Linked DNA regions of Homo sapiens. The protein of the gene in region 1 interacts with the protein of each later gene in a pairwise test. Each region holds a gene or a part of one and is shown in the gene's direction. Other genes may lie near its edges. The genes, in order: ERG, LARS1, MNAT1, HIPK1, ARK2N, SOX6 and WDR13.

Region 1 (4,025 bases):
GGATTAGGTGGCTTAAACAACAACAGTTTATTGTCTCGCAGTTCTGGAGGCTGGAAGTCTGAAATCAGAGTGTCATGGTGGCAGGTTTCGTTCCTTCTCAGGGCTGTGAGGGAGGGATCTGTCCTGGGGGCTCTCCCTGGCTTACAGATAGCCATCATCTCCTCGTGTCTCTTCTCATCATCATCTCTCTGTGTGTGTCAGTCTCTGTGTCCAAATGCCTCTTTTGCATAAGGACATTGGTCAGGTTGGAATACCTACCCCATAACCTTACTATAACTTGATTACCTCATTTAGGATCTTATCTCCAAAAAAGGTCACATTCTTAGATACTGCGGGTTAAGATTTCAACATAGGGAATTGAGGGAACACAATTCAACCCATTATACAAGCAGATAAAATAACTAGTATTTTTTAAAAGAGAGCCTTGATACAACCACAAGACTTCAAATTCAGGCTCATCTTCGATGGTCTGTTTCTGAACTTCGATGCTAGAAGAAAGTGCAGATTCTTAATTAGCCCATTTGTAACCAGTGCATTGCCAAGGTTTGTCACCTGTCCTAGTGTTTCAGTGCCAACCACATAGTTTTATTTGTTTGTATTCAGATCAGAACCAGCTGTGCTGGCACCAGCTTCAGAAATTCATAGCCTATGCTGCATATTCCCAACTGCAAATTCAAATGCCAAGATGTTACAGGCATATTGCAAGCACAAGATGGAATGTGTATTTCCTAAACGTTGAGGCCAAAATAAGGTTCGAAATGGAATAATTAAGATTTAATCAGTGTACATCCCTGCAAGAGAATCTACACATTGAAAACACGAAATGTTATCATTATTGAACATCTGTATTTTTGAAGTTAAATTTTGGTTAATGTTAATGAATTCAATGAATTTTTTTTACACAGCTGAAAATCTAAAGAAAACTAGTTAGCCTGGGGCCTAGACTAGGTGCTCAATAATTATTTGTTGCATACATGAATGCCAAGGATAATGAGATATAGTCCTTTAGCTCAGGGTGCTTTTGGTCCGTGGAGAGATGGACACAGGTAGTTACAACATTGTCCCAAACACAGAGCCACAGGCCCTTTTTGCTCATGCTGGCTTTCATCTAGTAGCCCAGGCTCCTGAGGCTGTGGTCTCTTCTCAGCCTTCTGCTCAGCTTTTCATTTGCAACTCTGCCATATAACCATTCAAATAAAAATAATGACTATGTTTTGAGATGATTATTATCAGTCATGCTTCAGGAAGACTGATCTGGCAGCAATGTTCAGGATAGATTAGAAAAAAGAAAATGACGGAAGCTGAAACACTCTGGGAATGTTAATACAATCATGTGAAATAACAATCAAACAGCTCCCATCCCGCAGAATGCCCCCCATAGAATGTCTGTGGTCCCTTCTGTGTCTCATAACAGCCCTGGGAGGTTACTATCTCCATCCTACAGAAAAGGAATTAGAAGTCCAGAGAAGTTAAGTAACTTTTCCTGTGTCACACAGCCAATGATAAGGGAGGTCAGGTTAGAAACCTGACTCTGTCTGCAAAGTCTACTTTTGTTTTCTTGCCCTACTCTGCCACTGACTAAGTATGAAGGGAAGAGGAGGTCTTACAAAATGCGGACTGTGAGAATAGAAAGCAAGGATTTCCTTTCAGGGTCATAACTGCTTAGGTGCAGGCGATGAATCTGAGGTCAGGAAGGAAGAGGAGGAAAGAGTCAAGCTGCACCAAAGAAGACCAAACTGGCCTTTGCACTCACACATTGGCCAAATGAAACATATATGTCCATGACCACGTTGTCACAGCCCAAAGGTACTGCTTGGCTTGTTTGTAGAATAGGGCCTGAGTCACTTGCTCCTAAGCAAAGTGCCAGCTTTCACAAGGGAACACTGCATATGCCCTGGGCCCAGCAGCCCGGGGATGCCCTTTGTAGATAGAGGGACCTGAGCTCAGAGCAAGGAGACCGGAAACTCATCACAGGCCTGGGGAAGGAGGACTGTGCTTCATACCATTAAGACTGTTCTTAATGGGCCTGGAGAAAATGGCAACATCCCATCTTTGATTTGCAGGCAAGTGACTTTAAGATAAAGATTTATTTCATTTAGTTTCTGATGAATTTGACTTTCTCTCCATCTATCTTTAGGTTTGTGTCTGTTGTGCTCATGTGAACTTTTCCCCTGAAACCAGAATGTCTTTTATCTTTGTATTAATGACAATGCTTCTTCCTGTTTGATTCTATTTTTCTATTCTCTGATAAATAAATCTTTCATCACTTAAAAATTGCTGTCTTTGCTCTTCATACAATACAAATTCCTTTTCATCATTTTAAGTGGAAAGATTGCATCATATAGTATGAATGCACAGGATGATGTCAGCATCCCAACATCTCTATCCCAAATATTCACTTGATGTGTACTTTGGACATCACTTTTCCTGCTGAGAACAGTGTGTCCCTGCATTCTGATATCATGGATCGGTTATAAGCAACACAGCTCCTTTACATCCCATCAGAGCAGCTGAGAATCTATCTAACATGGTTCCTCTAATGAAAGAGCTTTGGTGGGTTATGTTCAGAGGCTTCCTTGATGCTAACTGGATACTCTTCAATGGTGCACATGAAAATACATCCTGCCTCTTGCAGAACGACAGACCAGGCTAGGGATGTTTTCCCATTTGTTAGGAGGTGGCAGTGTGCAGTCTTCCAGTGGGAGTCCCCCAGGGAGGGGACAACATGGAAAGGACCTGAGGAGGCTACAGAGGTGTGCATAAACCAGGCCTGAAAGCAAGTTTGCGCAGTGATTAAGCATGGCAGCCTAGAGTCTGGATTTCAACCCTTGCCAACGCTAAGCAAAATAAGTCAGTCTACCTCTCTAAGCTCCAATTTCGTCACTTCTCCAATGGACTAATCACATGATTCCTGTGGGGATTAAATAAACCAATACATGTAAAGCGTTTAGAATGGTGCATGGCACACAGTAAGCTTTCAGAGGATATCAGTCAGCCCAAGAATAGCACCGTTTCAAGCTTCTTCATGGTTCAATAGGCCAATTGAACAGTATTTCTCTTTCTTTAGGCATTTCCTGGCTATAGGAGAGGAGTGTTATCTTTCCTTAAACTCTGATTTTCAGCCCAAAGAAATTCTGACAAGACCATTCAAGTACTGAGTTCATCCTTACCATGATCTTGCAAGATAGTACTATTACCATCACCCCCACTTTACAGATGACGATACTGAGGCAGAGAGAGCTGCGAGAGTTGCCAAACGTCCCACAAAGGGCAGAGGCAGGATTCAGCTGAAGCAGTGGCAACTCCAAAGTTGGTGCTCCCTACCACCATGCTTTCCTGCCCCTCCAGTAAGTGGTGCCTGAGCCTCACTGAGCCTCGGGGCAGAGACTTCCATTCAGGACACACCTGCTGGACACACCTGCTGCCTTGCAGAGGGTCCAGGCCATGCACACGGGATCTTCTGCACCACCCCTGGCTTCTAGAGAAAGTGGCCCCAAACCACTGCCACATGGTACTGGTGGGGCCCCTCACGGCTGTATTTACTGCCCTTGTTCATCAGCTGACGGCTGCAGGGCTTTGCACCAGGATGCTGTTTCCACCAGACACAGCTGCTGACTCACTCTGCAGCTCTCTGCTTTGCTCTGTGGTTTGTAAACCGTTTAGTTTTTTTTTCCCCCTTTTTTGCTCAGTCTGTACCCCTTTGCTACCCTGTTTCTCTCCCTTTCTTTTAACAATATTAGGAGATTACTTTCCTCTGTAAAATTAAAGGAGTGCCTCTGTCTTCTTAAAAGCCACAGCCGCTCCCTTTCACCCACAGGGTTCTCTGTAGGTGGACAATGCTGCTTGCCACTGTTTTTTACCTCCAAATATGTTTTATTTTGGTAATTACCCTAAGAAAAAATTAGTTCCTCCTTACTGACATCGCAAGGATGTTATTAAGAGAGAGTAAAAAAAAAAAATAGATCTGAAGGGTTTACCCAAGAAAGGTGAGTCCTAAGGTAGAGGTGGTGATGCTACTCAATGAA
Region 2 (4,642 bases), on another chromosome or scaffold:
TTCAGTATATGAGATGGAAGAGGAGTTAAATTCAGTAACATAGTTATTGGTCTGTTTGCTGCAATAGACAGCAAATTGTCCAATTAGTGCCAGTTGTATTGAGGGTAATTATGATCTGGGTCCGGGAGGAACTGAACTAAAACTATCATTTCATTCCACAAAGGCCACTGAGTAAACTATCTGATGGTAATAAATTTGAATCACTCACAACCCATGCCATATGTGAACTAACAACTTGGAAGTGAAAGCCTTCATTTCTCGTTATCAGTCCCTAGGGACTTAGAATCACTCTCATCTTTTCTCTAAGAGCCTTAAATCTTATGTAGTTGCAGGCTTAAATTTCAACAGTTTCAATGATAAGAGAAGTCTGGGATAAAAGACAGTTAAACCAGTAAGAAAGCTCTACGAATCTATGGACAGTAATGAACTACATGGTGAAACATCAAAGCAAATATGTTTTGTCACTTAGAAGCCTGATTGAGTATTAAGGTTTCTTTGAACTAGTTTGATTCAGAATTGCTTGGAATGATGAGGGAGGTCTGTTTTAGACAGAGAGAAAGAGTGTGTGTGTATGAGAGAGAAAGAGGCAGAGGCAGATCCGCAGTAAAAGGCCTTATGCATAAAATCTGCTGGCAGAACTTGTCACTGCATCTATAGCAAAATATTTGGTACCACTGATGTGTACGTTGAATTGCAATAGCTGTTAAAATTAATTGTATTCTTCCCCAAAATAAGATCGTGGCTGTCATGAAGATTGCGCCTGCTCTCTTCCCATTTTAATTTTCAGGGCTCGTACTGTGTCTGGGAATAGATTGTATGGTCCCTGCAGAAACTCTCCAAAGACTCTTAGACAGGGTTTGCTTTTGTGGTAGTCGCAGGTAATTGTTCTATAAGCCCCTTCTCTAAACTTCGGTCTTTGTTTCCCGAAGAGGACAGAATGCATGGATAACTTGTATTCTTGGTTGGCATGGCCGCCAGCTGCATTAAAGTCTTCTTTTATCTCTTATCCCTCTTATACTAAGCTTTGTACTCTCAAGTCAACATGAGGGAGGGTAGCTCAGGTGTGTTTCAGAAAGAAATGGGAAGTAATTCAGAAAATATCTTCTATTTCTATGGATCAGGTTAAGGATAACTAGCCATGCTACACTTCGAATGAGATATAAACCCAGAATCAGCATTTGTAGTCATTTCTGGTGTTTTTCTGCCATATAAAATAAAACCATTTGATGTTGGGAAGTCTCAGAATTGCTGAAATAAATATACTTCTTTTGGGCTCAGTTGTTGGCAGGATTGTTGACTTACAAAGTTGTTCAAGAGACAGGTGCTTTTTTTTTTTTTTTTTTTTTTTTTTTTGGTCAGGCGCTATTTTTTCAGCTTGCATAAGAGCAGATTAGGAAAATCTCAAGCAGGGTGGGTATTAGACCTCATCCTACAGCTAAAAATTCTGAAAGCTTAAATTTCTGTCCTTTCTCTGCCTTGTCCCCGCTCTCCTTGTCTCATCAACTTGTTAATACAAATACTTTCATCTTTTGAGCAAATGAGAAACTGGTAATGCCATTTCTTAGAGTAGTCATTATTTATCCAAAAGTATCTCTGAGAAAAGCTACAATTCTTGCAAGTTTAGTGTATTCCAGGGAGCTCAAGAAAGGGGTAAGTTTTAGATTTTTCGATATTCTGTACAATGGTTAATTGAAGCATATAAAAATGATTTGAGAGACCATATAGGATAATGCTAAAAAATACACACAATTCTTTCTCTCTCTTAGTTTGTAATTCCAGGAGATGTCAGAATCTCTGACACTTTGAGCTGGGTAAAAGCTGAAAGGGGATGAAGATTTGCTACATTTTAGCTTTGCTCCTGGGATTGTTTTTTTTTTTTTTTTTTTTTCCCCCCGACAGAATCTTGCTCTGTTGCCAGGCTGGAGTGCAGTGGCGCGATCTTGGCTCACCGCAACCTCTGTCTCCTGGGTTCAAGCAATTCCACTGCCTCAGCCTCCCTACTAGCTGGGACTACAGGCATGCACCACCATGCCCGGCTAATTTTTTGTATTTTAGTAGAGATGGGGTTTCACCATGTTGGTCAGGATGGTCTCGATCTCCGGACCTCGCGATCTGCCCACCTCAGCCTCCCAAAGTGCTGGGATTAAAGGCATGAGCCACCATGCCCGGCCACTGCTTTTTTTGTTTGTTTGTTTGTTTGAGATAGAGTCTCACTTTGTTGCCCAGGCTGGCATGCAATGGTGCGATCTTGGCACACTGCAACCTCTGCCTTCCAGGTTCAAGCGATTTTCCTGTGTCAGCCTCCCAAGTAGCTGGGATCACAGGCGCCCATCACCAGGCCCAGCTAATTTTTTTGTGTTTTTAGTAGAGATGGTGTTTTGCCATGTTGGTCAGGCTAGTCTCGAACTCCTGTCCTCAAGTGATTCACCCGCCTCAGCCTTCCAAAGTGCTGGGATTACAGGTGTGAGCCACCGCACCCAGCGTGGCTTTTATTTAATAATCTGAAGAAAATATTTTTGTTTAGATATAACAACCAGCGTATTTAAAACGTGAGTTCTCAGACTGCTCCAGGGTTTGAGTGACTGTAATTAAATGCTTATATTGATAATTTATTTTGTTGTAGACCTTTCCAAAGTGAAACTGATGAGATTTGATGATCCACTGTTGGGGCCTCGACGAGTTCCTGTCCTGGGAAAGGAGTACACCGAGAAGACCCCCATTTCTGAGCATGCTGTTTTCAATGTGGACCTCATGAGCAAGAAAATTCATCTGACTGAGAATGGGATAAGGGTGGATATTGGCGATACAATAATCTATCTGGTTCATTAAACTCATGCACATTGGAGATTTATCCTGGTTTCTTAGGAATACTACTACTCTGATTGTGTCTACTGATTGGCTATCAGAACCTTAGGCTGGACCTAAATAGATTGATTTCATTTCTAACCATCCAATTCTGCATGTATTCATAATTCTATCAAGTCATCTTTGATTCCTGGACCTAATAAATTTTTTTTCCCTTTCTTTGGGTGTCCAAGAGAAATGGTTTTTGCCAAACTCTTTTTAAAAAACAAATTGTTGCTATTTCCTAGAAGTTTCTGGTTTTTAAGATGAACATAAAAGTGTCAGTATGCTTCTTTTATGAGGTGTACTTTATACTTTGATGAAGGCTAAGGTGTACCTAACAGCTTTTTATAGTATATTCATTTATGGAGTTAGCTGTATTTTTTTTTAAAAAAGAAAAGTAGTAAATTAGCAGCTTTTTTTTTTAAATGAAGAGAACTTCATGATGATTTAAAAGAACTAATGAGAATATTTTGACTTGACTTCAATTACTAAGTATTTTGTATAAAGAACAAATAGGTCCTGCATTTTATAAGACTTTTTAAAGCTTTAATTATTCAACTAAGAACCAATAATGGCTTCTTCAAGGCTAATATCAATAGTTTATAAGCAGTATATTTCACCTACACTAAATATGGGCATTTTAAAAGAAGATTCCCCCCTTCCCCCCCAGAAATCTGCATTTACTAAATTTGTCTTAAGTCCAATTGTGTTTAAAGGTCATGCTGGTCGGGTGTGGTGGCTCACACCTATAATCCCAGCACTTTGGGAGGCCAAGGTGGGCAGTCACCTGAGGTCAGGAGTTTGAGACCAGCCTGACCAACATGGTGAAACCCCGTCTCTACTAAAAATACAAAAATTAGCTTGGCATGGTGGCGGGTACCTGTAATCCCAGCTGCTTGGGAGTGTGAGGCAGGAGAATCGCTTGAACCTGGGAGACCGAGGTTGCAGTGAGCTGAAACCGTGCCATTGCACTCCAGCTTAGGCAACAAGAGTGAAACTCTGTCTCAATCAATCCATCAATCAATCAATAAAATAGAGGTCATGCTGACTATTACAGATTTATTCTTTTATTCTTGTTGGAGTGTCTTTTAATATCTGCGCCATCTGTCTTCATATGAGGAAAAAATGTAAGGCATTGACTAACAGGAGAAACATTTCTAATTTTGATGGGTTTAATATGGAGAAAGAACAATTTTGATAACCCAGAGGAACCTGAATTCTAACTGCGGTTATGTAAATAGAGTTTATTGAGCTTCCTTATTTTGCTCTCCGCAGTTAGGGACCACTAGGCCTAGTCATATGGTTTATCACAGATTTATTGAAGCCAATCATAGGATGTTAGAATTAGAAATCATCAAGTGCAAATAATCACTTATCTACTAGGGACAGGCACTATAGCATAGTGGGGTAAGAGCGCATGCTCTGAAATCAGACTAGCTAGGTTAGATTTCCAGTTCTTCTTTTTGCTACTAGGATGCTCTTGGCCAATTACTCGGAGCTGCAGTTCTTCATCTATAAAATGGAACTAATACTGGTACCTTGTAGGCTTATTGTGAGACGTTTAGGTGAACTGATCTAGGAAAATCATAACACAGTGCCTGGCAAGTAGTAAGTCTTTAGTGAATGTTACCATTGAAGAAGAAGAAGATGATGGATACCAAGGTATATTGGCTTCAGATTACTGTAGTCTGTAATCATGTCCTTTGTGTTGGTTCCTTTGGGGCAACTGATTCTTTCTTTGCACTCCTCTAGATTCTTTTGCTGTCCTCTCTGATCTGCAAAGCCTTAATTATTT
Region 3 (4,025 bases), on another chromosome or scaffold:
CTAGCTAATTTTATCTCTTTGGATCTAAGCTTAACTGTCATTTTTTTAGGGAAACCTGTTCTGATCTTATTCATGTTGGCTTCTCTTTTTATCCACATTCATCAAGCCCTACTTTCTCATTTGTAATATTCATTATTTAATATGTTTCTTTTCTGCTGGATTATACGGTCAATGAGATCACGAAGGCTTTGTTCTCTGTCTTATTATCAGGGCTACTTCAATACCTGGCAAATAGTAGGCTCTCAGTAATTTTTTTTTTGAGAATGAATGAGCTGCATGTATCTAAATTTCTGCATTTTTGTCCCCTCACTCTTGGAGATAAATTACTCATCCTGCCTTTATAAAGATATGATGAAAATTCTGGCACATAGCTGTTACTAACATGGAATTTCTAGTAAAAAATTACATTAGACAAACCAGAATCAGGCACTAGGTTTTTTAAGGAATATTACCAAAGAAATTCAGAAGCTAGTACATTTATTTTTATAATATCTACTGAATTTCCAAGAAGTGACACTTGTTCCTCATTGGGATACACAAAATCTAGGCTCATATTACTTGCTATTTTTAGATTTTTTAATGAAACTTTGCCTTACTCTGTCTCTTCCAGTCATTATTCTGAATAAATTAATAGAAATGAGTATCATAATGTTTTAAGAATCAAAAAATAAAAACAATATTTATGCCATTTTTCTGTGTAATGTCATCTAAGCATATAATGGCAATACTGAAATTAGACAAACATTGTATTAATCTCTTGTGGAAATAAACATCTGACTTGGAAGAATATACTTAAAATTTATCAAATATCTTTTGGCCTATTAGCTACTGTTTATTATCTGTTTTTCATGGCTCTATCTATCTCATAGCCCATGTTCCTGAGATGTTCCTGTGTTTAAATGTATGTAGTATATAGACAGAATCTATCCTTAGAGGTCTATCCTTTGAGATAATCAGCACTACCAACAACATTGTTCATAGAATATATTATACTTAAGTAGCTATATCTTCTGTGTGTTCTATAGTTCACACTTAAATCAAGGAAGTAATCCTTTCATTATGTAATTATATTAACTGTCAGTAATAACTGTTCTATCCAAAATACCTGGTGTGCTCTTTGATAGCAATAAATTACACAGTTATAGTATAACTGGACTTATACTCCAGTTATAAGGCAGAAAGTCTTCTCCGAGCAATCTATATTCAGTTATTAAATATGAGTAATAATAAAGCATTGTGTTCATTTGGAAACCATGTGTCTTTTAATTTCCAAATATGAGTTTTGGTGTTTGATTGGTCTAAATGTCTGGCATAACTATTCACTCTCTTTCCAAGTGTATTGATGTAAATCTGAATTCAGTTTTATTATTAGTTTATTCAAATTGTATTCTCACTAGCTGGCTAGATGGTAAAGTGTAAGAGTAACATATGACTGCCTGTGGAAGTTTGTTACATTTTTGTTTGGACTTCATGAAGCCATATGTTTTTTGTTTTTTGTTTTTTTTAAGATGGAGTCTCGCTCTGTCGCCCAGGCTGGAGTGCAGTGGCGTGATCTTGGCTCGCTGCGACCTCCACCTCCCGGGTTCAAGCGATTCTCCTGCCTCAGCCTCCTGAGTAGCTGGGATTACAGGTGCGTGCCACCACGCCCGGCTAATTTTTGTATTTTTAGTAGATTCGGGTTTTCACCATGTTGGTCAGGCTGGTCTGGAACTCCTGACCTCGTGATCTGCCCACCTCGCCCTCCCAAAGTGCTGGGATTACAGGCATGAGCCACCACACCCAGCCGGCCATGTATTTTTATAACCAAGCTGCCCTCAGAATTATGAATAGTATTTCTGACATGTAGTGTCTTTTCTCATTTATCTTAGAATATATGGTTACCACTCTATAAACAGTTTGTCTATTATTCTGGTACTGTGCTTAGTTTAAGACACCTAACCATTAACTAGTTTTCAGAATGGTTTTGCTTTTTAGTGATAGTTGTGTGAGCGCACTGTTGCTCTGGTTGTTTTTAAATCTCACTGAGGTAGGCTTCAGGTTGTTAATGTAAATCTTTATAGCTTTGGCTGAACTTCCTACAAGAGCTGTGGGTCTTGATAGCTGAGATCAGCTGGCTGATCTCTCTTAATGGCAGTTAGATTTGAATTTTGTGGGCTAGGACACAGATCTGTTTGGAAATGGTCTGTTTAATGCATGATGGCTTTAAATGAAGACTAAAAAAACGGGCCACCTTGTAAAAAGAAAGTCTTAGTCTCTAGAGTTCACTACCTTTCTTAGTTTGAACCAATCCAAGTTTTTAACTCTCCATAGGGCCCGGTAATTTGAGGTGGAGGAAACTAATATGAACTTTACATTTCATTTCAATATTAATTCCAAGCCAGTGTGCTTTAAGGATTGTCACAAACATATTATGACTGGACAGGAAGAGTGCTTGCCTCTTGGTCTTGAGTGACAAGCCCTGCCCTCTGCCCCTAGCTGAGAACTCAAAGCATTGTTAAGTAGCACTAAAACGAGCTGAGTCCAAGACTTCAGCCAGATGGTCAATATAGTGCTTTTAAAGGAAGGGAAATAGGAAAAGAGTAATCTCAGAAGCACTCCTATGTTAAAGAACTAAGAAACTGAAGTCTTTCTGAAGCTAAGTGTAAATTATTCCACTTTCTTTGGGAGCAAAAGCTGCAAAATATAACACAAGAAAATGACAGTGTAGGAAACCAAAGTTCAGGAACAAACCTTCAAGTGTGGTTTTCTAATGCTTAATCGTATCTTACGCCCTTCTCAGGATCCATTGCTCCTTTTCCCTCCCTCTTCTCCAAGGTCTGTTTGAAAGGGATTTTGATGGGATAGGAAGGCAGCTTTAGACAGAGCATAAATTAGGGCATAAGATGTCCTTTGTACAAGAATTATCTTAGACATGCTTTCAAAAACATACTTTTTTTGACCTTATTAAGAAAATAATCAAAGGTATGATTTTTTAAGTCTTTGAGTTTAGTCTGCTTTCAGTAAAAATAAGGTATAGGTACCAAAATAAGCAAACCTCGTTTTTACTTTCCTGGTTTCTGCTTATACGATTTACACATATTTAAAATAAACCCATGAAAAACAGGAATAGTGTCATGGGATTGGCTAAATAGTCAGAGCAATTACCTCCAGGCTCCCAAACCCAACTGAGCTTGACTTTTGGAAGTAAATTTGGCTAAGACTTCTTCCTCATTCTGTTTTATAAAGGTATACATGAAATGATACTGACTTCTGCCAGAAACCCCAGGAATCCTGTTCAGTGATGTACTTGTAATGGTCATGAAAGAATAAAAACACAGATGTGGATTAAGGTAGAAAAGTACAGAAAACACTAAATTTTCATTGTGCTGTTTCAATGTGGCAGATTCTTTAAAATACTTCGACATGCTACAATAATTAAAGGTTTTAAGAACATTAAGATACTTAAAAAATAAAAGCCCACAATTGAATAACAAAAATGAACTTTGTTTTATTTTTTATTGGCATTAATGTAGGTTGCCGTGGTGAAAATAGTTTGAAATACTTCACAGTAACAGTTTTGTGCAGCCCTAGAGATCAAAAACAGCAAAGTAAATAAGCAGGACTCTCAACGACTCATACTCACAGACATGTTTAATGTAAATGATTGCTAGAAGGGAAGGGCATTTTCTTCAGTGCTATGCAAAGAAATTTTAATTGACTTGGTTTTGGCAGTGAGAATTGTACAACTTAGCATTAATAAGTCAAATTTAAAAATTTGCTCATTACTCTGGATTATGACTATGTTCAAGAAATACTATTTTCAAGCACTAATCATTTAGATAAAACTTTTTTTACACATTTATGGCATCAAGGAGTATGACTGTTTATAACATTTTACCTATAAAGCTGAACTGTTTTATATACTCTTTATGGAAACATGGCCATAAATTAAAAGATGCAACTGTTTTGAATATTTTACTGGTGGTCCTCTGTTTTCCTGCCAGCAGTGCAGCTGTTTCAGGTTTCTCAGGATAACATATAAAAAG
Region 4 (4,025 bases), on another chromosome or scaffold:
AGTAGTACTCCATTGTGTATATGTACCATATTTTCTTTATCCATTCATCTGTTGATGGACACTTAGGCTGCTTCCAAATCTTACTGTGAACAGTGCTGCAACATAGGAGTGCAGGTATCTCTTTGATATACTGATTTCCTTTCTTTTGGGTATATACCCAGCAGTGGGATTGCTGGATCATATGGTAGCTCAATTTTTAGTTTTTACAGGAACCTCCAAACTGTTCTCCATAATAGTTGTACTAACTTACATTCCTACCAACAGTGTACAATTGTTCCCTTTTTTCCATATCCTTGGCAGTGTTTATTATTGCTTGTCTTTTGGATATAAGCCATTTTAACTGGGGTGAGATAATATCTCATTGCAGTTTTGATCTGCATTTCTCTAATGATCAGAGATGTTGAGCACCTTTTCATATGCCTGTTTGTCATTTGTAAGTCATCTTTTGGAAAATGTCTATTCAATTCTTTTGCCCATTTTTTGATCGTATTATTAGATTTTTTTCCATAGAGTTGTTTGAGCTGCTTACGTATTCTGGTTATTAATCCCTTATCAGATGGTAGGTGCTCAACTTTAAAAAAATAAAATGCAGCTGCATTTTGGCTAATTGCTTTTGATGTCTGTTTGGTCCTGATTCTTCAGTGGTTTTGGAATTCACTCTTCTCTTTCTTTCTGTTGGTACAGGAATGCCCACTCTCATGGCAACCAGTACAGCACTATCATGCAGCAGCCATCCTTGCTGACTAACCATGTGACATTGGCCACTGCTCAGCCTCTGAATGTTGGTGTTGCCCATGTTGTCAGACAACAACAATCCAGTTCCCTCCCTTCGAAGAAGAATAAGCAGTCAGCTCCAGTCTCTTCCAAGTGAGTCTGTGTTACAGCTGATAGTTAAAACTGTGCCAGTTTGAGAGATATGTTGCCTTGCATTTGGAATATTGTATAGACATATAATATAGATATGAAGCAGCAAGTAGCTGCCAAATTGAGGAAGAGCAAATCATTTCATCTGGGCATGTACACCAGGTGTGTCCTGGTTTTATGATGGTCCTTTGTCTCTGCTGCCACTTTGAATCTAGGGCATTTTATGATGTTTTTATTTTACTTTACAGAGTGAAATTTAATCCTGGGATAAAGGGCTTATAAAAGTAAAATGTCTTTTGTATTTTGGTGTTCTTGTCCCTGGAAACTCTTGCCAGCATGGTGCTTATTTTCACTGGAACTTATATAGTTAAATGTATTTGCTTAATGATTATGTAAAAAGGAATCAATGAGTAAATTGGAAAGCAGTCTGGGGAAAAGATACACAATTTGGAAGGCCAAGGACTGAATCATCTTTCCATGTGAACTTTTCCTACAGGTCCTCTCTAGATGTTCTGCCTTCCCAAGTCTATTCTCTGGTTGGGAGCAGTCCCCTCCGCACCACATCTTCTTATAATTCCTTGGTCCCTGTCCAAGATCAGCATCAGCCCATCATCATTCCAGATACTCCCAGCCCTCCTGTGAGTGTCATCACTATCCGAAGTGACACTGATGAGGAAGAGGACAACAAATACAAGCCCAGTAGGTAAGATAAGTGAATGGTTCCTGGCTCTATTGGTTTTAGACTGTTGGCCTCAGGCAAGTGGGCCCAGTTTGGCCTGTGAAAGAAAGGACCGGTGGGGCATGGTGGCTCACGCCTGTAATCCCAGCACTTTGGGAGGTTGAGGCCAGCAGATCACCTGAGGTGAGGAGTTCAAGACCAGCCTGGCCAACATGGCACAACCCTGTCTCTACTAAAAATACAAAAATTAGCAGGGCGTGGTGGCACATGTTTGTATCCCAGCTACTCGGGAGGCTGAGGCAGGAGAATCACTTGAACCCAGGAGGCGGAGGTTACAGTGAGCTGAGATCGTGCCACTGTACTCCAGCCTGAGTGACAGAGCAAGACTGCATCCCCTCCCGCCCCCACCCAAAAAAAAGGGCCGAAGAAAAAGGTGTTTTGGAAGCATAGCCTTCGATGGGGCTTTTGGTGTTGGGCATACGGAAGAGGGAATGACCTCTTGCTTTTACCTGAGAAGGTAGGATTCACACATGAAAGTAACTTAGGAGACTTTACAGAGTCATGCAGAAATGAAGTTTAAGTGAACTTGGAAGAGAAAATTTAGAATGAATTTAGAGCCTGTTAGTTCAAAAGGACCAATTGTAAGATGGTAGAGGCAACATACAGGAGGTGTTAGAGGTGTGGACTCTGAAGTCATTCTGTCCTGGGTCTGAATCCTGTCTTCACCACTCATCACTTCTTGTGTGACCCTGGGCAAGTTCCTCATCTCCCTATTCCTTAGTTTCCTCATCTGCAAAATGGGGTTTATAGTACCTACTTCATAGGATTGTTGTAAGGATTCAGTGAGATGTATGTGGAGCATGAGAGTAGTGCCTGATACATAAGTACCCAGAAGTTTACTGCTGCTAATATTACTATTATTATTACCATCTTTATCATCATTGTTATCATGGGAGAACCAGAGACAGATCATCTAAGAAACATTGCTTAAAAGGGTGGTTGAAGCTCGGCATGGTGGCTCATGCCTGCAATCCTAGCACTTTGGGAGGCCAAAGCAGGAAGATCACTTGAGCCCAGGAATTTGAGACCAGCCTGCGAAACATAGTGACATCTCATCACTACAAAAGATAAAAACAGTTGGGCATGGTGGTACACACCTGTAGTCCCAGCTACTCGGGAGGCTAAGATGGGAGGATAGCTTGAGCCCAGGAGGTTGAGGTCGCAGCGAGCTGTGATCACTCCACTGCACTCCAGCCTGGGTGACAGAACAAGACGCTGTCACACACACAAAAAAGAACAATTCAATTTTCATGTATTTTTCTTTTCCTCAGCTCTGGACTGAAGCCAAGGTCTAATGTCATCAGTTATGTCACTGTCAATGATTCTCCAGACTCTGACTCTTCTTTGAGCAGCCCTTATTCCACTGATACCCTGAGTGCTCTCCGAGGCAATAGTGGATCCGTTTTGGAGGGGCCTGGCAGAGTTGTGGCAGATGGCACTGGCACCCGCACTATCATTGTGCCTCCACTGAAAACTCAGCTTGGTGACTGCACTGTAGCAACCCAGGCCTCAGGTCAGTGTTATCTTCACAGCTTGAGTTGAATTCTCCTTTGATGTGTGAATGCTTAAATATTTTGCCATAATCCACTTATATCAGTGGTAGAGACCAGTGGTGTAGACATTCTTAAAGAGACCTTAATTCAGAAATCAGTTCCCTGCACAATGTGAAATTATTTTTGGCCATCACTTTATCTTCCTGTGTTTATTTTGCTTGGATTAATATACAAATGAGATTGTAGTCTCAGAAACACATTCAGTGCTGATGGGAGAAAGCAGACAAGACGTGTGATATTGCAAGAAGAATTAGCAGGCAATTAGGTTTGCCACAGATGATTTGAATTTGGCAATTGAGATGTAGACAGGACTTGATAATATTGAAAATGACTGCAAAAGTGTTTTGGAAAACAGTTATATTCTTTAGATTTTTTTCTCACCCAGTGTCATAGCAGTGATGCTTTTGATGGTTTTATTACCAACCCAATTACTTCCATCATCTTTGCCCTGTTAGATACTGGACTTAAGCTCCCTGGTTTAGTTATTGTGTTAGTTGGGTAATAGCAGTTGCAGTAACAAATCCTAGATTTTTGTAGCATAACATAGTAGAATTTTACTTCTCTCTCATATAATTTCTTGGTACAAGTGTTTGATTCCTGAGCATCCAGTCAGAAGGAGAAAGAAAGTGTGAAGGAGGCACACACATGTCTTAACCTCTTTAGGCTGGAAATAAGTGGAAATAGTGAATGCTTCTCACATGGCCCCACCTAGATGCAAGTGAGCCCAGGCAATGTAGTCTTGTTAAGGCAGCTGCTTTTCAGTGACAACTTCATACCAAGGAAGGGGTTGGTGAAGTTTAGGTGTCAACATAAACCTGGGCCATACTTGTATAAATTATGTTTTATTATGTATTATCTTACTGCCATAG
Region 5 (3,755 bases), on another chromosome or scaffold:
TCAGGAAATGCCAGCATTGGAATTTTGTGGCATTAGTTACTACCTTCTTTCTTATAATATGTTGTAGTTACTAGTGAATTCTTTTAAAAGCAATACCTAGAGTTAGAACACTATGTACTCTGCACAGGGGGAGTGAAGTAATATTGGCTTAGAAGACTTCACCTTTTGTTTTTCATGGTTTTTGTTTGTTTTGTTTTTGTTTTTGTTTCCATTGTTACCGTTGCTATGGCCCTTTGCCTGTCTCTCCAAATCCCCTGGTGGCTCTTCTTATCATTAAGAGTATGAGAATTACCATTTTCAGTTTTCATTCAGCAAACAAATTTACCAAGTGCCTGCTCTGCATAAGGCACTGTGAGGGGTGGGTGCTCTGGGGGCTGCTGAGATGAATGACACACACCGCACATACACATGCATCAGTGTCTGCCTGCCTCCACCTGCCCAGCCTGTTCTTCTTCTTCTTCTTCATCTTCTTCTTTTTTTTTTTTTTTTGTAAAGACAAGTTTATTCCTTTACGCTTCTTGTTGCATTAGTTCTCCTGTATGTTCCTTCTTCCACAGGAATGTATTTGTGCATATGTTCTTTGATCTTCTCTGATAGCATCTCATTTGATCTGGCCTCTGTCCTTCATCAGCTTTTATTTTTTTTATTTTTATTTTCTGCTTTTGTTAGATAAGGCTTTTAAGATCATGAACCTCCAGCTTTAGCAACTCATATATCAGTCTCTCACATGGCCACAATTCTAGACAAAAACCAAAGACCCAGAGGCCAGAGCAAAGTAGGACCTTCTGAAGATTCACTACTGGTGTATCCTTGGACCTTCACATTTTACTTTAGGATTAATTTATTGAATTTTACTGTTACACATAGTTTTTGACTTGAATTAAAATACTAGACAAAGCAGAAATGTACAATTTCTGGTCTGTGTTTTCCAGGAAATTCATAGAGAAGAGAATAGAGTGGATGATGTGACTTGAAGTTTTTGCAGCTTATTTTTTCCCCCACTGTCAGGGCAGAGGCCCATTTTAATGAATGTTTTTGCATGACCTGTTCTTATGTTAACCACATATTTTTTTTCCCAATTCCACACAGCAGGTGATTTCCCGTGTGACATATTTTCTTCATAGTCCCTAATATAGTCATCCTCTACAGAGTTGGCGTGCTGTGTGCACTGTGGATTAGGAACAGAGTGGAGCTGTAACCAGTCTCTTCTCTGGCCCTTTGCCTTTATGTCAGCTTGCACTTTTGCCTCACTTATTCCTAGTCCAGCTCCCAACTGCCTGACTTAATGGACCAGAACGGAGATTTGGATATTAAGATGCAGAGGGGGAGGGGAAGGGATGGTAGAGATAGACAGCTCTCCCCTACTAGGTTGGGTCATTTCCCCTAATAACTATAGAGAGACTGTGTTTCAACTCTCTTTTCATTGCTGTTTCCAGAAGAGTGGAGAGTGTGGTTTCAGGCAAGGTATTAATGATACAATTCCGTGGTATACAGCTCCTGTGACATTTGAAGTTTCTTTTAAAGGGGTTTTTCTTAATCAAAGTTTTACATTTGGTAGCATAAGTAGTTCTTTATGCTTCACAGGACATTGTCTTCAGAGTAATCTCTCTGCTAAAATGGTACATGTGGGTCACAGATTGGTTTATGCCACTGACTTGGTTAAGTTTCCACCCCCTCCAATTTGTGAAAAACAGAGCAGTGACCTAGCTGTTGCATCATCATGACTGCCATGTAACCTGTAATTGCTGCTCTCCAGTAATTGTCTTTTCATTTTGATGGTAGGGGCCAGACTGAATGAATAATGCATTCTTTTTTATTCAATTTATTTCATTCAGTTTATTCTTGGCAATCAAACATCCCATAAACTTTGCTTTTATTATCAATTATGAATATGAATTGTCTGGTTTACTAATGTAGTCATTTGTTCATCTTTACTTTTAGCAGATTAGCACCATAACTAACTTAAAACTAAGTTTGTTACCTGCTTTTTATACTGTCACAAAGGTTTTTGAAAAAGCTGGGGACACTATTTTGTCTTTTAGTTTTAAACTTTTTTAAGGCAAAGCAAGCTCCCCAATCCCTGTTCTCCAATATGTGTATGATGTGACTTCCATGTAGATATAAAAATGATTGTGCCCTAACCAAACTTCCTCAGATTGTGCACTGTTTGTTTAAAATAATCACGTATTTTAGTCTGATGCTGTTGTATTTTTTCATTTTATTTAAAACACTACTTACTTCTTATTCTCTTAACAAATTTTAAAAGGTAGTGATCTTAAAAAAAAATCACTGGATAACTAGGAAATATTTTTGTTGTTGTTTTGTTTCTTAAAGAGTACAGAGGCCATTGAAGCCTTTTGCTCCTCTTACCGTGAAAATGAAATGTTAGCCATTGTATGGCTAGGAACCAATGCACTTGGCAGTTAATGGATCTGCTGTTGCTGGAGTGTGAGCGTGGACTTGATGCAGTGATGACAAATCATTGCTTAGAATTAATGTTTTCAAATGTGCAACTCTAGTTTTTAAAACAAAATTTGGTTCTTTACATTCATTATTTCGTTTTTGTTTCCCTTTAGTATTTAATGGTCTTTGGAGAAAAAATAATAAAACAGAGTGTTATATATATATTTTTTGGTGCAAGATAAGATTTTCTGTTTTTTGAAATAAGTCTGTAGCATAAAGGTTAAACTATTTTAAGACAAAATAAAATAGAGTGTATTTAAACAATGATATCTTCTGAGGTTTTTTTTTTTTTTTCTTTGTCCCTATCTGCTTCAGTTAATTAGGTGGTACCTGGAGCAATTTCCAAGTTACCTTTTAAATGTGAAAGTGGATTCTATTTTGTTAACAAGTCTTATCTTTATAAGATGTCTGAGTTTTCAAAGCAAGAGCTGTATCCTTGCAAGGTTACTTGCAAAACTACTCCCAAGAAGTTTTGCAAGTAACCTTGGATAATTGTTGGATGTTGATAAAAATAGCTTTGCATTAGCTTTCCTGTAACCCCACCTGAGATTTCAAAGAGGGCCAAAGACTTATTGTTCTGGGCACCTTTACTCCTGGCAACAAAACTTCACTGCTGGTTATTACTTTGCAGAGATCAGAGAGTCAAGGTAAGATGCTGCAACGGCATGCACTTTGCATGTGGTTAAACATTGAAGCAGGTATAGGGTGTTTGAAAAATAGACTGAATAATTTTTTCCATAGTTTGGTTCTATTTTCAGATTTTTAATTTGGTTATTAAAATGATAGGAACTACCATATTAACACCTCATGATGTTTGTAACTTATCTTCACATAAAGGGGAATGAGGAACCAGGGAGAGTGAAACCTCTTTTTATTAAAACATTCAACTCCTGAATCTCTTAGTTTTCCTCAAGAATTTTTGGTTCTGCTTGTACTGGAAAATGATCTGTTAACAATTAGGAAACACAATATTAACTAGTAGGAAATATCTTCAGATTTTTGAAATTGTTCTTTTATACCACCCTGTATCTGAGACGTAGACATATTAATACCTATAAGAAATCTTTGGCTGGGTGCAGCGGCTCATACGCCTGTAATCCCAGCACTTTGGGAGGCCGAGGTGGGCGGATCATCTGAGGTCAGGAGTTCGACACCAGCCTGGCCAACATGGCGAAACCCCGCCTCTACTAAAAATACAAAAATTAGCTGGGTGTGGTGGCGTGTGCCTGTAATCCCAGCTACTCAGGAGGCTGAAGCAGGAGAATCGCTTAAACCCAGGAGGCAGAGGTTGC
Region 6 (4,025 bases), on another chromosome or scaffold:
AATACAAACCCCGACCGAAACGCACCTGCATTGTTGATGGCAAAAAGCTTCGGATTGGGGAGTATAAGCAACTGATGAGGTCTCGGAGACAGGAGATGAGGCAGTTCTTTACTGTGGGGTAAGTATTCCTGAATTTAGCCACCTGGGCTTTACTTTTGCGGTAAGTAACTATAGGATGGCTACTGGCAGTATGTTTGGGAAGGAGATTAGGGAAAGAGGAGGTTGTGGCATACTGAAGGGGCTTGGCCATGAGAATCTTTGCTGTGTCATAGGGGCACTGCCTTGCACCATGGCTTTTGCTCAAATCAAGCCAAACCTGGAACAGTTCACTCCCAGCTGATCACCCCTGTCATTGTCTCCCAAGCCAATTTAAGATGCTCAGTGGCCACACACAGAGTTTCTGGTAGTTTATTTAAGCAGATACACAGGGAGGAAAAATAAAAACTAACCTTAAGAAATCCCCATAAGCTTTCCAGCTTCTCTGGGTGGTGCTTCTGACTCTAATCACAATAGTCTGCTTTTGTTGTGGGATCTACCACAAGATAATTGGCCTCGACATTGGTTAGAGGACCTCATTTTTGGCATAAGATCCAGAACTCCTGTTGCAGTAAATTATTCTGTGGTGGGAGCAGTAACAATGTGTATTTTCTTGCTTAAATCAGAAACTAGACATGCTTTTGATATCTTCAAGTCTGATTTCATGTCATTTTGTTTAAAAATTAGGTAATAGATTTCTGGTATAAATTTCAACTTGGCTGACTGGCTGTCTGCATTCAAAAGAGGCCCCTCATAACCACAGTAGTCAGGATAAGTGGGGATGCAGATGACTGTAGATTCCAGCATACCCAGACCTAGAAGCACAGCAGGGTGGCAAATCCAGAGGGCCATTTGAGGCACAGACCTGAAGCAGCTGGACTCAGAGTAGGGAAACACTTGGGAAAGAGCTTGAGAGAGAGAAGCAGAGTAAGCAAGAGGGAAGTTGCATTTGCTGTGAAGTTGGAGGAGAATTGAGGAGCTGTGCTGTGCCAGGAAACTAAGAGAGCTTCACTTGAAGGTAGAAAAAGAGGTACCTTAAAGGAGAAGCCAAGAGCTATTCACTTTTAAGGGCACTCAAGAGGTAACCCTGTGGAACAAAAAGTTGTTTTCAGAGCATGTGTTTAAAAGGAATAGTAAATAGAGTAAGAAAACAAAGCCAATGAACGTAGTCTGGGTCATGAATCTGTGCAATACACTGCAGTGTTTTCGGGAGGAGCGTGGGCTTTGGAGTTTGACTTCTGGGGTTCACATACTGACTGTGCCACCTACCTGGGCAAGTTATTAAACTTCTCTAACTTTTGTTTTCTCATGTGTAAAATGAAATGAATAGTGGAAACTATCTTGTATGATTGTTGAGAAGATCCAATGAGGCAACGCTTTTAAAAGTACTTTATATAGTGCTTAATACGATATCAATAAAGGTGAACTCTAGCATTATCATTACTATTTAATATGTATTTCCTATCACAGAAAACCATATTTTATATCACACCAGATGATCAGTGAATTTCTTTATACCATGGCAGAACCTTTTAGAGGTAGAGAGAAGCTTAAGCCACTTTATTATAAAAGATCCCAGTATGTTAATAAATGAAGACATGACAAAATAGGATTATCAAATTCCTCTGTATTATAAATGTTTGCATTTTTAAAGGTAATGCGTTTAACGCTAAAAAGGGCAATGTGGTATAATTGGGCTATTCAGCTGATAATTAGAGGATTTATGAAAAATACTAATTCATAGTCCACTTTAAGATTATGTGATAAACATTCTCTTTTAATCCCGTTAGTACACCTCTAAGATTGTGTATAATCTCTTTTGAACAATCCAAAGTTTAAGTTTGGGACCTCTTGTGATTCCTGCCCTCCCTCAGTCATGTTCCCTGTGTATGTAGTGATACATAGTGGGGCTGTTCCGCCAGTCTGGAAGGCTACTAAAGGTGCTGTTTTAATACCTTGGTGTAATACTTATTTGAAAATATGAGTTGCAGTAATACTATTGAATTTAGTTCCCTTTACTAAAGGGTACATTAAAACAGCTCTAGATCAAAATACCACAACATGTACCAATGCATGTAAAAATAAAAAACTAAAACAATTTAATAACATCTATTATTTATTGACTATCTAGTGTATACTAGGATTTTAGATATATAAGTCACATAATTCTCTAAATAAGATAAAGAAGTTGAGTTTTAGAGAGTTTCTATGGCTACAGAAAGGTGATAAAGAGCAAAGGTTCAAATTCAGGTATTGGCCCCCATCATGCCAAATGACTGAGGAACTGTCTTTACTACTTTGTCTCAAAATATGCCTCATAGCCCTATGCTGGCAGTCATGAGTGTGGCTATGCCATCTGAGCAAGAGCTCTTAGCACTTGGAGAAAATGAAGTCTCTGCTTGTGGTATATGGTACATAAAAAGAACTTTGAAATTTAGAGACTAAGTATCCTGTTCTCAATAGTGTAGAACAGTCCTTTATGGAAGGATCATTTTAGACTGCAGAATAGGGCTACTGAAGTGCAGGCAATGATCAGAATGTCTTATTCTTTCATCTCAATGCTGAGCATTTTCCTCTGCCCAGCTTTGATAATACTTGCTATGTAGAGCCAGGTGTTATTTCTGCTTAAGGATTTGTATTCTCTTTTAAGTAGTTGTAGTTGATAGATTATTAATTTCCTGAAGTTTTTCTTTGGAAATTGATCTTTATTACATATGAGGTTATTACAAGAGTTGAGCAAAAAACAAACAAAAATTCAAATATTTCTATTGACGTTTTGATGGAATGGGTTCAGATCAATTTTTATAGCTGATTTTGAAAAGACATGCATAACTTTCAAGCCAATAAAAGTGCATATACTGCTCAACATTTTCATGCATTTTACTGACTACACAACTGTGGCTGATGAGTTAGTTTTTTTTATTACTTAGCTATTATGAAATGAATTTATCAATAATATGGAAGGGAGCAATGTTAGCCCTTGCCTTGGTTTTAACCTCTTCAGTTCGCAGAGTAAGTATCAGAATGTTGTAATAATCTGGATAAGATTATTATCTGGATTATTCAAGATAATAAATGTGTGTGTGTATGTGTGGGTATAACACACTATTATATGCTAATCTATTCATGTATGTATCTGGCTTTGTATATTTGTTTGTATGTATCTGGCTTCTCCAACTACAGAATTCTCTGAAACTCATGTGTACAGAAATAATGCCTCATTTACTATACTAATTTAATAAAGTGTTGGACACATAGCTGGTTTCAAATAGGCCCTTACCAATTCTGAGTGTGGTGTCCAGAATATTCCCTCTACTATTAATGTAGAGGGAATATTCATTAGGGTACATGTAGCTACAATGACGTCTTCCCAAAGAACTGTGACCGAATATACTTCCATTTATTTGAAACTTATTTGGTAATTTACCTATGAACTCATAGAGAATTATGCAGGTACATTCAGCCCTCTGTATCTGTGTGGATTCAACCAATTGTGGATCAAAAATATTTTTTAAAAAAATTCGAGAAAATGTTACATTATTGCTAAAGTACACTATGTAGTTAGGTCTACAGTGGTTGCATCTGTATGGAACATCTACAGACTTTTTTTTTCTTGCGTTTATTTCCTAAACAATTCAGCATAACAAGTGTTTACATAACATTTATATTGTATTAGCTATTATAAATAATGAGATTGTTTAAAGTATATAGGGGATGTGTGTAGGTTATATGCAAATACTATACCACTTTATAAAAGGGACTTGAGCATCCTCAGATTTTGTTATCTGTGGGGGTCCTGGAACCAATCCCCCATGATACAGATGTAAAACTACTATAAAATATTAAATTTGGGGCTACTTTTTTAGCAATGATAAAGATAGATTATTGAATACTTACTGTGTGCTGTGTACTCTGCTGAGTGGATTATACAGATTATTGCAAATACAACAAATTTACAAGATAGGGAATATCATTCTCACTATTAAATT
Region 7 (4,809 bases), on another chromosome or scaffold:
CTGTAATCCTAGCACTTAGGGAGGCCGAGGCGGGCGAATCACTTGAGCTCAGGAGTTTGAGACCAGCCTGGCCAACATGGTGAAACCCCGTCTCTACCAAAAATAGAAAAATTATCCGGGCGTGGTGGCAAATGTCTGTGGTCCCAGCTCCCGGGAGGCTGAGGTAGGAGGACTGCTTGAGCCCAGGTGGCAGAGATTGCAGTGAGCCAAGATCGTGTCACTGCACTCCAGCCTGGGTGACAGAGTGAAACCCCATCTCAAAAAAAAAAAAAAGATTAAATAGATTAATATATGTATAAAATACCTTGAACAGTACCCAGCACATTGTCTCATAAATATTAGTTGTTCTTGTTAAGGTTACATGTTTGTGCAGTGAAATAGAGTTTACTCTTTATCAATCATGTTACAAAAGAGTATTTAATATGAAAAGACACTGATAAGCTTGTTACAGGGACAAGGGAGATGCTGAGTCAACACAATACAGTGTGATCTTTCGGTGACTTTAAAACATTGTTGAATTGATTGTATTTGTTATAAAAATAATGTGGAAAATAACAGCTTTGAATTTTATGTCAGTTGATGTTAAGATCCAACAGGAAGTTTACCCTGATAACGTTAAGATGAACAGTTTGAAAGCAGCTTCCTGCTGGAAGTTGAAATAGAGATGATTCAGATAGCCTCTTTGGATCCAAACCCCAAAGCTTCTTTTGCCTAATTCTATCTTCTGTCTTTAGAAACTCAAGCCTCGACTGGGCTCGGTGGCTCACGCCTGTAATCCCAGCACTTTGGGAGGCCGAGGCGGGCGGATCATGAGGTCAGGAGATTGAGACCATCTTGGTTAACACGGTGAAACCCCCTCTCTACTAAAAACACAAAAATTTAGCCAGGCGTGGTGTCGGACGCCTGTAGTCCCAGCTACTTGGGAGGCTGAGGCAGGAGAATGGCGTGAACCCAGGAGGCGGAGCTTGCAATGAGCCGAGATCGCGCCACTGGACTCCAGCCTGGGCGACAGAGCGAGACTCCCGTCTCAAAAAGAAAAAAAAAAAAAAAAAAGAAAGAAACTCAAGCCTCAAGCTGTCTGGGGGCATCCAAGTCCAACCATCCCAGTCACACACACACAACCGACCTTACTCATCCCAGGGGTGTGCAGAGGCCCACTGCAAGAACTGGTGAACTTTCAAGGCGTCTTTGCATATATGATGATTTTTTATTCTATTATTCAAGTTTTGCTTGGACAAGATTGTGCTGCTAAAAAGTGGCCTACACCACTTTTTTTGTTTTTGTTTTTGAGACAGGGTTTCACTCCCGTCGCCCAGGCTAGAGTGCAGTGGCGCGATCTCAGCTCACTACAACCTCCGCGTCCTGGGCTCAAGCAATCCTCCTGCCACAACCTCCCGAGTAGCTGGGACTACAAGCGCCCGCCACCATACCCGGCTAATTTTTGTATTTTTAGTAGAGACGGGGTTTCACCATGTTGGCCAGGCTGGTCTTGAACTCCTGGCCTCAAGTGATCCACCTGCCTCGGCCTCCCTAAGTGCTGGGATTACAGGCGTGAGCCACCGCGCCCGGCCCTACACCACTTTTTAAAAGTCGTGTTTCTTCTCTTTTTTATAATGTTGTACTTCTGATTTCTAGGGAATGATTAGCAAACTCACCCCTGACGCTATGTCCCTTGGACATTATCCTTGTATACACAAAAAGTGCAATTAACGAGTGGGTAGAAGTCAAGGGGTGGAGCCTCCGTCCTTGGGCTTGAAGCCAATGTCCCTCAATGCGCCTGCGAGACTCCCACGCCCTGGGAAGGATGCCTATCGATTCGCTCTGGGCTCGGCAGTTCTTTCTGATAGCAGGCAGCCATCTTGCCTGGAGCCTGAGAAAGGGAGGAGAGACAGAAGGAACCGGCGACAGTGGTCTCAGGGCCGCTCCGGGGGGCCTCAAGAACCGGAGGCAGCCCCGGAGGTGGTCCCCGATCCCGGGCTATGCTCTTGGATCTGAGAAGGGAAGGCGGAGGGCGGCGGGGACAAGATGGGTGGAGAATGTCAAGCAAGGAATGCTAGGCGGGGGAGGGGCGTTGCTATGGCGACTGGGGAGGGGCGGTGTCTGTTCTGAATCGCTGTGTGTCACCCGGGCGCTGCCCAGGAAGGGCAGGGCTGGGGTGATGACCATGGTAACACCCGGGGGGGAGTTCGTGACATCTCCGGCGCGGAGGGACTCGATGTCTATGGCAATGGTCGCCTGGTGGAAGGGACGGAACTAGATCCCTTCGCTCGGGACGCTCACATTCCAGGCCCTTGTCCTGCAGGCTGCCGCGGGCGGACACGCCAGAGGAGGAGGCCGGGGAATGGCCGCGGTGTGGCAGCAAGTCTTAGCAGTGGACGCGAGGTGAGGCGTGGGGTCAAAGCCCATGGGAGCAGAACTTACTGTGGTGCATGCGCAATGGCGATAAGTGAGGCTGGGCGGAGAACTTGCCTTATGCGGCTGCGTGGGCATGCCGGAGGTGAGCATGCGCAGTAGCGGGGGCGGGCACGCCCGCGGTGAGTTGGCTGCGCCGGAGAGGATTCTAAACAGCAAGCTGGGAAAATGTGGTCAGATGTGGGCATGCGCAAAGCGGCTACCTGTGAGAGGGAGGTGGGGCTCAGGCAGGTGACATCCTATCCCCTATGGGTGTCCCCTAGACTTTTTTTTTTTTACATCATCACTTCCCCATTCTGACCCCATCACCTCCCAACGCTGACCCCCATAATGTCAGTCTGATTTCTGTCGCCCTGGTATACTGACCCTAATTATTGTCTGCGCTGACCCAGTCACCCCGTAGGGACCCCAGCACGGCAGCAGACTGACTCTGTTGTCTGCAAACTGACCTCATGACCATGCTCATTATTACTGCAGACTCACTCCCACCACAGGACCAAGAGGTCCCTCATCACCACTGCTAGTCATTCTTACCACCTAGGCCCCAGTCACTGCCACACACCTCACTCTCCTGCCGTACCCCCCCCCCCGAGCTGATTGATTCCCTCTGTCCTGTGCCTGCTGCCTGCCCTGCATCCTGACCCTGCAGGTACAACGCGTACCGCACACCAACGTTTCCACAGTTTCGGACGCAGTATATCCGCCGGCGCAGCCAGCTGCTGCGGGAGAATGCCAAGGCTGGGCACCCCCCAGCGCTGCGTCGGCAGTACCTGAGGCTTCGGGGGCAGCTGCTGGGCCAGCGCTACGGGCCCCTCTCCGAGCCAGGCAGTGCTCGTGCCTATAGCAACAGCATCGTCCGCAGTAGCCGCACTACTCTTGACCGCATGGAGGTGAGCTTCTGGCCACATTCACCCCCGGGCATACCCTGCCTGCACACATTCACTCCACTGACTTTCATCAAGCACCTGCTCTTTGCTGGGCACTGTTCTGCATCAGCAGAGGACAAAAAGATAATATGCCAAGTAAACCAGTAAACACACAAACTTTGTAAACAGGTCAGTAAACATATAGCAAGCCCTGTCTTTAGTATCTGCTGAGCAGGGGGAGGGCAGGAACAGCAGAACTCGTGAGGAAGCCACTGCAGTAGTACAAGTGGGCAGCGGTGGTGGTGGCAGGGGACACAGTGAGAAGTGATCTGACTCTAGGTAGATTTTCAGGGCTCCACACCTCAAAGGTTCTCGGGCTTTTTGCAAGATGCACCCACCCTGACCCTCTCCATTTGCAGGACTTTGAGGATGATCCTCGGGCCCTGGGGGCCCGTGGGCACCGTCGTTCTGTCAGCAGAGGCTCCTACCAGCTGCAGGCGCAGATGAACCGTGCCGTCTATGAGGACAGGTATGCACCAGAGGCAGCCAAGGCGGGGGGCGGGTTGCGAGGAGGAGAGGGGCCCTGGGGCAATGGCAGACTGAACACTCTCGCATCTACCTCCTGTCACCCCTCACTTCCTATTGGGGCCCAGGCCCCCTGGCAGCGTGGTGCCCACGTCAGCAGCAGAGGCAAGTCGGGCCATGGCCGGGGACACGTCACTGAGCGAGAACTATGCCTTTGCGGGCATGTATCATGTTTTTGACCAGCACGTGGATGAGGCAGGTGAGCCAGTGGGTAGCGGGTTCCATCACCAAGCGTTTGCCCAAACTGTGACAACCAACCAAGGCATCCTTTTCTGAATCCAAGGCCCCTGGCACACTCCAAAGGAGGAATGACCATCCATAAAGCCTTTTGTAGACTGAAAATCCCTCTGCAAAGTGGTCAGTGCTTCGTCTACTGGAAAGGGCCTCAGAAGCCTAAGAGAGAGCCCTTTGCAGCAGGCTGCCTGGGTTCCTGAGTCACTTGGAAGAGTTCAAAGCCTTTGCTGATGATAAATCCCCTTGCAGAGGGCAGAGTGGGCTACAGTGTCAAGGGTTTTGCAAATTGCCAAGACCTTGATTATAAAGTGTTCGCTAAGACAGGAACTTTTTCATGTTGCAGAAGACTTTTGCAATCTGCAAAGGAGCTGCTAAGACTTAGGGAGCTTTGGCAGAGGGTCTTCAGGGGTTACAGTTCCCTTTGTCAGCCAAGGAAAGCCCTTTGCTGAGGCCACTGTTCCTCATGCAGTGGGGCCCCAGCCCCAGGCACACACGTCAGAGCCTTTTAGAGAGAAAAGTGCCCAGTGAGTGTGCAGATTCCCACTAATGGCTTCTTGGCATTGCAGTCCCAAGGGTGCGCTTCGCCAATGATGACCGACACCGCCTGGCCTGCTGCTCACTCGACGGCAGCATCTCCCTGTGCCAGCTGGTGCCTGCCCCACCCACAGTGCTTCGCGTGCTACGGGGCCACACCCGTGGTGTCTCCGACTTC

Evidence for each region.
Region 2: the proteins of ERG (region 1) and LARS1 interact in a two-hybrid assay, tested with the Homo sapiens proteins (one large-scale study listed by BioGRID and IntAct).
Region 3: the proteins of ERG (region 1) and MNAT1 interact in a two-hybrid assay, tested with the Homo sapiens proteins (one large-scale study listed by BioGRID and IntAct).
Region 4: the proteins of ERG (region 1) and HIPK1 interact in a two-hybrid assay, tested with the Homo sapiens proteins (one large-scale study listed by BioGRID and IntAct).
Region 5: the proteins of ERG (region 1) and ARK2N interact in a two-hybrid assay, tested with the Homo sapiens proteins (one large-scale study listed by BioGRID and IntAct).
Region 6: the proteins of ERG (region 1) and SOX6 interact in a two-hybrid assay, tested with the Homo sapiens proteins (one large-scale study listed by BioGRID and IntAct).
Region 7: the proteins of ERG (region 1) and WDR13 interact in a two-hybrid assay, tested with the Homo sapiens proteins (one large-scale study listed by BioGRID and IntAct).

Annotation. Positions count from the first base shown.
Region 1 is NC_000021.9:38,386,724-38,390,748, reverse strand, and holds part of ERG (transcriptional regulator ERG), read left to right. Parts: intron 1-4,025. UniProt on the Homo sapiens protein: Transcriptional regulator. May participate in transcriptional regulation through the recruitment of SETDB1 histone methyltransferase and subsequent modification of local chromatin structure.
Region 2 is NC_000005.10:146,112,293-146,116,934, reverse strand, and holds the end of LARS1 (leucine--tRNA ligase, cytoplasmic), read left to right. Parts: intron 1-2,623; coding exon 2,624-2,829; 3' UTR 2,830-3,901; downstream 3,902-4,642. UniProt on the Homo sapiens protein: Aminoacyl-tRNA synthetase that catalyzes the specific attachment of leucine to its cognate tRNA (tRNA(Leu)).
Region 3 is NC_000014.9:60,961,495-60,965,519, forward strand, and holds part of MNAT1 (CDK-activating kinase assembly factor MAT1), read left to right. Parts: intron 1-4,025.
Region 4 is NC_000001.11:113,967,082-113,971,106, forward strand, and holds part of HIPK1 (homeodomain-interacting protein kinase 1), read left to right. Parts: intron 1-684; coding exon 685-867; intron 868-1,360; coding exon 1,361-1,567; intron 1,568-2,874; coding exon 2,875-3,116; intron 3,117-4,025.
Region 5 is NC_000018.10:46,264,263-46,268,017, forward strand, and holds the end of ARK2N (protein ARK2N), read left to right. Parts: 3' UTR 1-2,730; downstream 2,731-3,755. UniProt on the Homo sapiens protein: AMPK substrate important for exercise capacity and skeletal muscle function.
Region 6 is NC_000011.10:15,982,297-15,986,321, reverse strand, and holds part of SOX6 (transcription factor SOX-6), read left to right. Parts: coding exon 1-118; intron 119-4,025. UniProt on the Homo sapiens protein: Transcription factor that plays a key role in several developmental processes, including neurogenesis, chondrocytes differentiation and cartilage formation.
Region 7 is NC_000023.11:48,595,656-48,600,464, forward strand, and holds the start of WDR13 (WD repeat-containing protein 13), read left to right. Parts: upstream 1-1,836; 5' UTR 1,837-1,959; exon of another isoform or gene 1,960-2,302; 5' UTR 2,303-2,341; coding exon 2,342-2,382; exon of another isoform or gene 2,383-3,061; coding exon 3,062-3,302; intron 3,303-3,697; coding exon 3,698-3,807; intron 3,808-3,931; coding exon 3,932-4,062; intron 4,063-4,663; coding exon 4,664-4,809.